Linked DNA regions of Homo sapiens: region 1 is linked to region 2. Evidence: fine-mapped expression QTL. A gene starts in region 2. The other region holds a variant in brackets. All regions are shown on one strand. Distances are between the middles of the regions. Region 1 has its middle 24 kb from the start of PYGL. Region 2 holds the start of TRIM9 (tripartite motif containing 9).

Evidence for each region. PIP is the estimated chance that this variant, and not a neighbour inherited with it, causes the effect.
Region 1: its variant is fine-mapped to the expression of TRIM9 in whole blood (TOPMed, PIP above 0.99).

The regions. Positions count from the first base shown.
Region 1 is chr14:50,965,303-50,970,678 of GRCh38, reverse strand. No RefSeq gene overlaps it. Among named protein-coding and RNA genes, the nearest start is that of PYGL, 24 kb to the right of the region's middle. The variant G/T (reference allele first, on the strand shown) is at 2,698.
Region 2 is chr14:51,092,062-51,097,437 of GRCh38, reverse strand. It overlaps TRIM9 (tripartite motif containing 9), which reads left to right and starts at 2,333. Exons shown (of 13, transcript NM_001387360.1): 1 at 2,333-3,320. The coding sequence starts at 2,499. RefSeq lists a silencer at 2,272-2,341.

The DNA.
Region 1 (5,376 bases), 130 kb after region 2:
TGCTTTGATATTAAGAGAATCTGAGCATCTGCTCTCCTTGCCTTAGGGATGGGGAAAGCGAGAATCCCAAGGAATCAGATGAAACACTGAGTCTATTTTTTTTTTTTGAGACGCAGTTTCGCTCTTGTTGCCCAGGCTGGAGTGTAATGGCATGATCTCGGTTCACCGCAACCTCTGTCTCCCAGGTTCAAGCGATTCTCCTGCTTCAGCCTCCCAAGTAGCTGGGACTACAGGCATGTGCCACCAAGCCCAGCTAATTTTGCATTTTTAGTAGGGACGGGTTTTCTCCATGTTGGTCAGGCTGACCTCAAACTCCAAGGGGAGTTGGGATGTGAAATCAGGGGCCCAAAAGAGTACAGGATACAAGGGTGCACCCAGTGACCAGGAGATTCACACGCATCACACACCATGCTTTTTGTTTTGTTTCCCTTTTTTCCTTTTTTTTTTCCTTTATGCATCAAGCTTCATTTCTAAGCTCTTGCCAGGTGTCTGGCAGTAACCAAAGGAAGCTTTATAATACATGGGGTGCACTCCTAGTAAACAATGTCAAAGACACTGTAAAAGGAGAACAACTAAGGAACATCAGTTGTCCCACAAAATTGATCTGACCCAATATGATATTTTTCATGGTCTGAATCCTTCTAGGGCTAGACTAATAATAGCAATTACAATTTTCTTATTTCTCAGATGCAAGGGTTGTGTTTTGTGTTTCTGTTTTGAGAGACAAGGTCTCACATTGTCACTCAGGTTGGCACGCAGTGGCATGATCATAGTTCACTGCAGCCTCAAACTTCTGGGCTCAAGGGATCCTCCTGACTCAGCCTCTTGAGCAGCTGGGACTACAGGCACATACCACCACTACTGGCTAATTTTAAAATTTTTTGTAGGGATGGAATCTTGCTATGTTGCCCAGTCTGGTCTTGAACTCCTGGTCTCAAGGGATCTTCCTGCCTCGGGCTTCCAAAATGCTGGGATTAAAGGCGTGAACCACCAGACCCAGCTGGTTTTTTTGTTTTGTTTTTTACACCTTAACATCTCTCAAATCAAGACACATCTTACAACACATGTCAAAAGAAACTCTTTAGGCTGGGAGCGGTGGTGGCTCACGCCTGTAATCTCAGCACTTTGGGAGGCCAAGGCGGGTGGATCACTTGAGGTCAGGAGTTCGAGACCAGCCTAGCCAACATGGTGAAACCCCCCGTCTCTACTAAAAATACAAAAATTAGCCGAGTGTGATGGTGCATGCCTGTAATCCCAGCTACTCAGAAGGCTGAGGCGGGAGAATCGCTTGAATCCGGGAGGTGGAGATTGCAGTGAGCTGAGATTGTGCCACTGCACTCCAGCCTGGTGACAAAGCGAGACTCTGTCGCAGAAAAAAAAAAAAAGAAAGAAAGACACTCTTCAGCCATTGATAGAGTGGTGGTTCTCAGCCTCCACTGCACACTGAAATCATCTGGGGAACTTTAAGAATACTGATGCTGCCGGGTGCGGTGGCTCACGCCTGTTATCCCAGCACTTTGGGAGGCCGAGGAGGGCGGATCACGAGGTCAGGAGATCGAGACCATCCTGGCTAACACAGTGAAACCCTGTCTCTACTAAAAATACAAAAAAAATTAGCCGGGCGTGGTGGCGGGCACCTGTAGTCCCAGCTACTCCGGAGGCTGAGGCAGGAGAATGGCGTGAACCCGGGAGGCGGAGCTTGCAGTGAGCCGAGATCGCGCCACCGCACTCCAGCCTAGACGACAGAGCGAGATTCCGTCTCAAAAAAAAATAAAGAAAGAAAGAATACTGATGCCAGGTTACTAATTTAGTTGGTCTAAGATGCAGCCTGAGAATCTGGAATTTGTAAGGTGATTCTAATGTGTGTCTAGAGCTGACAGCCCAGAGGTAAGGAATGAGTGGGTAGTGTATACTCAGCAAAGTTTTTATTGCCTACACATTTGGAAAAACAATAAGATGGGGGGCATCATCTTATAACCAACAAAGTGGATCCCTCAAAACATGAAGTCTTTCCATGTTCAGTGTCATGAAGCCAATACACAAAACTAAAATTGTCAAGTAGAGCAGGCTTTATTCAATGGCCATGGAATTAAGAAGTGGAAGCATGGCTCACAAATCAACTTCTTGACCAGTGAGGGGTGAGGGGTGCAAATAAAGAGTTTCTCTAACGAAGAGGATGGACATTAAAAATGAAAAGAGGGGCCGGGCACGGTGGCTCACACCTGTAATCCCAGCACTTTGGGAGGCCAAGGTGGATGGATCACGAGGTCAGGAGTTCAAGACCAGCCTGGCCAATATGGTGAAACCCCTTCTCTACTAAAAACACAAAAATTAGCTGGGTGTGGTGGCACGCACCTGTAATCCCAGCTACTTGGGAGGCTGAGGTAGAAGAATCACTTGAACCTGGGAGGCGGAGGTTGCAGGGAGCCCAGATGGCACCACTGCACTCCAGCCTGGGTAACAGAGCAAGACTCTGTCTCAAAAAAAAAAAGAAAGGAAAATGAAAAGAGGAAGACTCAGGTCTTTTCTGGAAAGGGTCAGTGAACTTCCCAGAACTGGAGTGATGCCTTCCTCCTTTTTTGTCCTTTTATAGCTTCTTCTGGTCATTGTCCTAGCAATTGTCCACTGTTATGGTGATGGTCAGAGTGTCATTTAGCATGGAAATGAGATTATAATGAAGCCCGAGTTCTTTCTGAA[G/T]TCATTTGCTCAGCTATTTTGGTTCTAACCAGTCTCAACTGTTCCGGTTACAAAGGGAACTTTTTATTGCAGGCATCCTGTTTCTTAAAGCAGTGTTAGGGCAGAGCAGAAATTCAGCTATGTCACAGAGGCATTACACCAGCTAACAATTTCATCATTCTGTTACTTGTTATTTCCTTTGAAAGTTGATAAACTTAAATTCACATCTTAATTATCACTTAAAAGGTCTTTTAAAAGATCCCATTATAATGCAGTATAGAAATGAAAAAATATATTGTACATGCATAAAATTAATAATCATTCACTGGATAATATACAATTGAAATAGTCATACACTGGATAATATAATTAATAAAATTGTCAAGATGCTGAGAACAAATCACAAATTTTTGAAATCTAGGAAAAGTTTTTGGGACCAACTGATATGTGAAGAGCTATCATTCAGATGTCTAAATCTGTCAAAAGCTTCCAGCTACTTCCCAGAAGCTCTTTATTTCCTATTATTTATAATTCAGTTAACAGTAGCAATACAAACAAAATAGCCAAAAGAGAAATGCAAAAAAAAAAAAAAAAAGAAAAGAAAGAAAGAAAAAAACACACACATAATCCCACTGCATTCTTTAAATTATTCTGCAGCCTCACAAATATGCTAGCAAGGTCCAGATCTCGTGCAAGGGTAATCATTACATTACGTATAACTGCCAGTGGCCCTGCTTGATACAGAGGTACTTGGGGACCGAATTGTGTTTGTTAGTCTGAAGAGCAAAGTAGCATGTATTGTGGCAGATAATGCATGCTATTGTAAGTAGAGTTTTCCCAAGTGGTATATATTAAATGTTGAACTTGGCTTTGGTTTTCTCCAAAACAGTTCCATTTTTTTTTTTTTTTTTTTTTGAGACAGAGTTTCACTCTTATTGCCCAGGCTGAAGTGCAGTGGTGCGATCTTGGCTCACTGCAACCTCCACCTCCCGGGTCCAAGCAATTATCCTGCCTCAGCCTCCTGAGTAGCTGGGACTACAGGCACACGCCACCATGCCAGGCTAATTTTTGTATTTTTAGTAGAGACGGGGTTTCACCATGTTGGCCAGGCTGGTCTTGAACTCTTGACCTCAGGTGATCCGCCTGCCTCGGTCTCCCAAAGTTCTGGGATTACAGGCGTGAGCCACCATGCCCGGCCAAAAGAGCTACTATTAAGCCAGTAGTGCATCATACAATCTCTAACTAGAACTTCTTACAATTGAGAAATCCAATCACTCATCATATCCGCAGGTTCCACATGGGTGCATTGAAACAAGCTTGGGTTGAAAATGCTGGGAAGGAAATTAAAAAAACAAGAAAAATAATACAAATAAAAGGAATACAGCATAACAACTATTTACAAAGCATTTACATTGCATTAGGTATTATAAGTAATCTAGAGATTTAAAGTATATAGGAGGATTTGCATATGTTACATGCAAATGCTACACCATTTTATATCAGAGACTTAACTATCTGTGAATTTTGGTATCCCAGGGGTGTCCTGAAACCAAGGCTTCACGGATATGGAGAGACAACCGTGCTCTAATAATGTAAGTTGCCAAATATTGAATCTTATTGTTTTCCAGGCAATGTACCAAGGGCTTTTAGTGAATCATCTTACTTACCCTTCATCTTACTTATGCATTTTTATTATTACCATTTTAGAAATGAAGAAACTGAAGCACAAGAGGTTAAGCAACTTGCCCAAAGTCACACAGTATACAAGTATGACAGCCAGGGTTTGAACCCAAATAGTCTGACTCCAAGACACAGGCTCTTAACCTGTAGGTTATATGACATATGATTGCTACACATAGGATGTACCACAGACAACACACTCATTCATACGATTAATATTTAATGAGCACCTATTAAGTGATAAATGCTGTTGTAACAATGCTATTACTGGGAATACCAGTGAATAAAATAGACAAGGTCCCTACGTTCTTAGAGCTGATATTCAAATAGGGAAATAATAAGTAAAGATCAAAATCATTTTAAGTCTTAATAAATACAACACAGGAAATCCAACAGGCTATGAGATAGAGAGATATGGAAAAGTCAGCAATTACCTCTCTGAAGGGGTTATATTTGGGTTGAAGAAGCCAAGACCAAGGGAAGGGGTAAAGGCCTTGAGGCGGGAACAAGCCCAGTAAGTCAAAGAGTTAGTGAGGGTGAGGTGCATGCAGTGAGAGGAAGGAGGGTGGAGAGCCCAGCCTGCTGAGGTTATATGAAAATGCTACACCATTTTATATCAGGGACTTGAGTATCTGTGAATTTCAGTATCTCAGGGAGGTCCTGGAACCAATGCCCCCGCAGACACTGAGGGACCACTGCAGGGAGGCCCTGCCAGGCAGGTGTGCCAGATAGGAATCTTTGGCTACAAAAACACCCAACCTGACTGTGGCTGACCTAAAGGCATAGAAGGAATATGCGAGAAAGACATGGGGCAGCTCAGAAAGATGGGAACGAGGGCAGCTCTGGGGATCAAGGTAGCAGGAACTGATGAATATCGGGTCTTATCAGAGACTGCCAAGGGGGCGCAAAAGCTCCAGCTCATCCTCATTTTATTGTCTCACTGCTCAAGATTTAATTCCAGAAAGATGGTGTCTGGTTTTGCTTGTATCCTGGGTCTACCTCTTAGCTGAGGGAGGGCAG
Region 2 (5,376 bases):
CTTATCTTCAGTTTATTTATCTGTAAAATGGGAATAATTGTGCCTACCTCTTCTTGTAATTACAGGGATTTAACCAAGTAATGTATACAAATAAATAAATCCCCTGTTTGGAACAGGGTGAACTCTCAACAAATGAGTCATTTTAAGAGCTCTCCTAGGATTGACTGATTTAGCTAATTCCTAAACAAACAGATCTAACAATGAAATCATCTCAAGCGACTTCATAATAGACCAAATCTTTCTATATTGACTATATTATAAACCTGTGTTGTTCTTTTTGCGAACCCAACACTGCATTACACCATGAGACATCCTCTAAAATTCTTCTTTACTTTGAACTAAGCATAAACTTTCTGCTAATAAGATCTCTTAGATGATATACTATTATAAGCAGAGTTCAAACTCATACAAAGTGTAACAGCTGCTCACCTTGCTGGTCCAAGATATTGTGACTTGTGGTCAAATGCATACAAAAGCCATAAAAGGACACTCCTTTCTAATATTTTCTCAATAATTAACTTTCATTACAATTCAATTAATACTATATTGAATATAATTATTAGTAATTTCTCTTGGGACCTATAAATTAAGTGTATCCTGCAAGTGCAGCTAATGTCCCAACCATACCTGAAGAAATTTTATCTATGTCTGTAAACAGAGTGCATATACCTTTGGATGCTCTGGTCTCAACTAGTTGAAAGCCAGCTTAAAAATAAATCACGTCACATTTATGATTAACATGGCTTTAAATAACAATGGGGACTTTATTCCCCCACACAATGATCAACTACTGTTCTCACTGCAACTAAAGATGTTGAAAAGATAACCTAGTTTATTGGACAATTTCTACAAGGGCAGTGTAATAAAATGTCCATTTTTTTTCTGGACAATAAAGTACTTTTAAATTATCAACATAGCTGCATATAATCAAGTTATCTCCTGTCTGGAAGGTGGAAAATTGGAATATTTCTAGAACTTGCAAAGAGTTTTTGTCCTTTACTTCATGAATCATTCAGCAAAAGCCGGCTATGTACTATTTCAAATGTTACTACCTCAGAATGTCACTTGACTCAAAGATTTTCCTTTCCTTTTCTTCTTCCTCCCTCCCTTTCTTCCCTTCCTTCCGCCTTTCCTTTCCCCCCCCCTTCCTTCCTCCCTCTCTCCCTCTTTCCCTTCTTCCCTCCCTCCCTCCCTCCTTGTACAGGGACTAACACTAGAATCACCGCCTCACCATGCCCCTCGTTGGAAGAAACAGAAAGGCACACGATGCTGTAAGCTATGGCAGATGCCCAGGGCACGTGGGGTTGAATAATGCTGTTTGGAGTGAAACACTGAGACTCCGCAGTCACACAGTGATTCATTTACAGAGCTTTACTAAACTACGGGCACTCAGAAATAGACAAACTGTTCTTGCCTCAACCGAACCAAAGGCCCAGCGGGCCTCGAAAAAGCTCAGCCAGGTGCTTTGGGAGGCCGCGAGGAGGAAGAAGGATCCGTGGAAGGAAGCACGTTCACACCACGGCACTGAGGCCTCTGGGCCGAGCTATAATTTAAAGCATGAAACGAAGGGGTCATAGATTCTGACTAATGCTGACCATTTCCATCGGTTACCCAGTTGAATCTCATGTCGACACTAGGAAATCGACTTTATACATGCTCTTTAGGAAACGAGGGACGCAGGATGAAAGAAGCCAAGAGTGTCGCCAGGGCTTGCGCCAGCGCCGTCAGACTCCCGGGATGGGGGAGCTCCAGGGCACGGCGTCAGCGGATTCACGGAGAAGGAGAAAAGCCCCACTGCCGTGCAGAAGCCTAGGCCCGGGTGAGACGCCTGCGAAGGCTGCCAGCAGCGGAAGAGAAGGGGCGTCCTCCGTGCTGCGCAGCACTCGCCCGCGGTAGGTGGGCGCGGAGCTCAGAGCTGGGAGCCAAACGCAAACGCTGGCGAGAAGCCCCAGCCCCCTCCGGCAGCCCACTCGCTGCGGGGAGGGGTTTCTCACGCCCCCAGCTCCTGGGAGACTGCACCGGAGGTCGGAAGTAAGCCGGGCGAGGATGAATCATCCCGCCTAACTCCTCCTTCCCGGTCCCCTAGCCTCCGCACGCCGGCCCCCTTCAGAGATCTTGCAGCCGCGAGCGAAGACTGCCCTATCCTCAGACTCTACCGAACCCCCTGTGGCCTGCGGAGACGAGGAGACGGACGGGTCTGGTGGCCAATGAGAGCTTCGATCTCTTGCCCCCCGCCCAATGGGCCGCTGCTCATGGGCCGGGGCGGGACTAGGAGGGCAGGTAGGGGCGGTCCGGGCTGGCGCGCGGCGCGGCGGCTACGCGGCTGCGGCTCACAGAGCTAGCGCCTCTCTGGGTGTCCGTGCCAGTGCTGCGCGGGAAGGCACCACCACCACAGCCGCCGCCGCTGGCCAGGGTGCTGGACAAGACGGGCCCGTCGGCCACCTCGCCAGCTCAGGCACCCGCTGCAGCCGTCGCTGTCTCCTCCCAGACCGGTCCCCATGGAGGAGATGGAAGAGGAGTTGAAATGCCCCGTGTGCGGCTCCTTCTATCGGGAGCCCATCATCCTGCCCTGCTCTCACAATTTGTGTCAGGCGTGCGCCCGCAACATCCTGGTGCAGACCCCAGAGTCTGAATCCCCCCAGAGCCATCGGGCCGCGGGCTCCGGGGTCTCCGACTATGACTATCTGGACCTGGACAAGATGAGCCTATACAGCGAGGCGGACAGCGGCTATGGCTCCTACGGGGGGTTCGCCAGCGCCCCCACTACCCCGTGCCAGAAGTCCCCCAACGGCGTCCGCGTGTTTCCCCCGGCTATGCCGCCACCGGCCACCCACTTGTCACCGGCCCTGGCCCCGGTGCCCCGCAACTCCTGTATCACCTGCCCCCAGTGTCACCGCAGCCTCATCCTGGATGACCGGGGGCTCCGCGGCTTCCCCAAGAATCGCGTACTGGAAGGGGTAATTGACCGCTACCAGCAGAGCAAAGCCGCGGCCCTCAAGTGCCAGCTCTGCGAGAAGGCGCCCAAGGAAGCCACCGTCATGTGCGAACAGTGCGATGTCTTCTACTGCGATCCGTGCCGCCTGCGCTGCCACCCGCCCCGGGGGCCCCTAGCCAAGCACCGCCTGGTGCCCCCGGCCCAGGGTCGTGTGAGCCGGAGGCTGAGCCCACGCAAGGTCTCCACCTGCACAGACCACGAGCTGGAGAACCACAGCATGTACTGCGTGCAATGCAAGATGCCCGTGTGCTACCAGTGCTTGGAGGAGGGCAAACACTCCAGCCACGAAGTCAAGGCTCTGGGGGCCATGTGGAAACTACATAAGGTGAGTCCTAAGAAAACCCACTCCTAACTCCCTGCGTCTCCGATCATCCGGTTTTGCAGCAGACGGTCCCCGTCTCTTGCGCACAGCGCATCCCAGTGGGGGCGCAATGCAGGTGCCTTCGATGTTTACCTCCCTGGTCTGGTGCATTGCAGGAGGCATGGGGGAATCTTAACCGGCGCACGGGGGAGTTGAATGCCCCCACAGAGTTGTTGCGGGGATGCCTTAGAGCGGGTCTCTCGGGGCGCGCTGCCTGCGAGCGGGACTCAGGGCGCCCCCTTTCCGCGGCGGGTCTGCAGCCAGTGGCCGCGGCCAGTGTGTGGGAAAGCACTGCATAGCTGGGTAGAGCCGCGCCAGTGCCCAGGGCCGCTAGGCACGCTCGAGGGCAGGGCGGGCTGCGAACCCTCGGGGAGGGACTGGGATGGGGGCGGTGGGGTCGCGCGGACGGCGGGAGTCTGTCGCTGCTGGATAGGCGGACCTGGTGAGGCACGGCGGAGGGTCGGGGAGACGCCGCAGGCGGAATACTGATGAGCCCGGCTCTGGGCCAGACCTGGCTCTCGAGCTGGAGAGAACGCGGGGTCCTGGTGCCACGTGCTCAAAAGACAGAGCGGAGAGGGCAGCCAGCGGTCGCCATGGCAACGCGACGTGCAGGCTTGGGCCTGAACCCTTCCGGAGTTGGGACCTGAGACTAGAGTGTCAGGACCGGAGTTTGCGCAGTCGCGGCCTGGAAGCCAGACAGGTGCATCTCCTAGGGAAACCTTCTCCTCCCAACTATACACACACCCACTTCTCCGGAATTCAAGCCCTTTCCTCTTTCAGTAGTTATATGTGCAAACTTTGGGACACCTGTTACCAGATTTATCTTTCCAGTCTCTTTTGATGATATTTCCACCATGGCTAGACACGAAGAGGCTTTAGCAACATATTCTGTCGTGCCACTCCTCTGCTCAAAACCCTCCAATTTTTCCCACGCTTCTCAGCCTGTCCTACATGACCTCTTCCATTTTGGCCCCTTCGACCTCATTGCCTCCCACTTACTCCCTCTGCTCCAGCCACACTGCTTCTTACTGTTCCTCAAACGACGCCAGGCACCTCCCTACTCCAGGGCCTTTGCATTTGGTGTTCATTCAGCCTGAAGCTCTCTTCCCCAGTTACCTGAGATCCGAATGGGTCACTTACCTGCATCCTTCAGCTCTTTGCTCAGGTATCATCTTTGCAGCGCCACCCACCCAGACACCCGCTAGTTCCCTCTCAGCTTTATTTTCCTCAGTAGTATTTATCCCTGTGTGGCATGCTATATATTTTAATTATGTTATTTTTTGTATTTATCTATTGCTCCCTGTACACACACAGACATAAACGAAATAAGCCTCATGAGGAAGAAGATCCTTATAATATGCCCACACTGCTTAGAAGGAAGGGAGCAACTCTTGAGGAGATGTGCATGAATTTGCTTTTCATTTTTTAAATGATCCATTTAGTTGGGGCTGTGGAGTGCAGGGCAGGGATTCAGGATGGTTGGAAGGAGCTTTTCTTTACATCACTGAGTTGCATACCCAAGGATGAGATGGAGCAGTGAAGATAGTGTCCAGGCCTCAGCTGTGGCCTTGCTCAGAGTCTCCCAGAATTCCTTGGAGACTAGAAAGGGTAGCTTTTGCAAGTGGCCAACTGTGGAGTTAAGGCTGGAACATTGATATTTTGTTTACAGCAAGAAAAAAATGTCATTAATTTTCAGCAATCAGTGAAAGTTTTCTCAACTCCTTAACCCGGTTGAATGTGATCCATGTTTACAGTCATTCTATTCTCACATATAACCTATTAAATCATATTAGTACTGATGGGGATTTCATTTAGCACAAATTGAAGCCTAACTGGGCACACACCACTGTTTTCAGAACAGTCGAATTTAAATTTTTGAAAATGACATTTAATTTTGAAAGTTTTCAAAACTTGAGTTCACAGCTAGTTTTTTATTCATATTTTGATTTCACTTTTAAACTGCTAATTATAGTCCATGTTGAATTGCCCTACAAAGTATCCTTGGAACTAAAAAATTAAT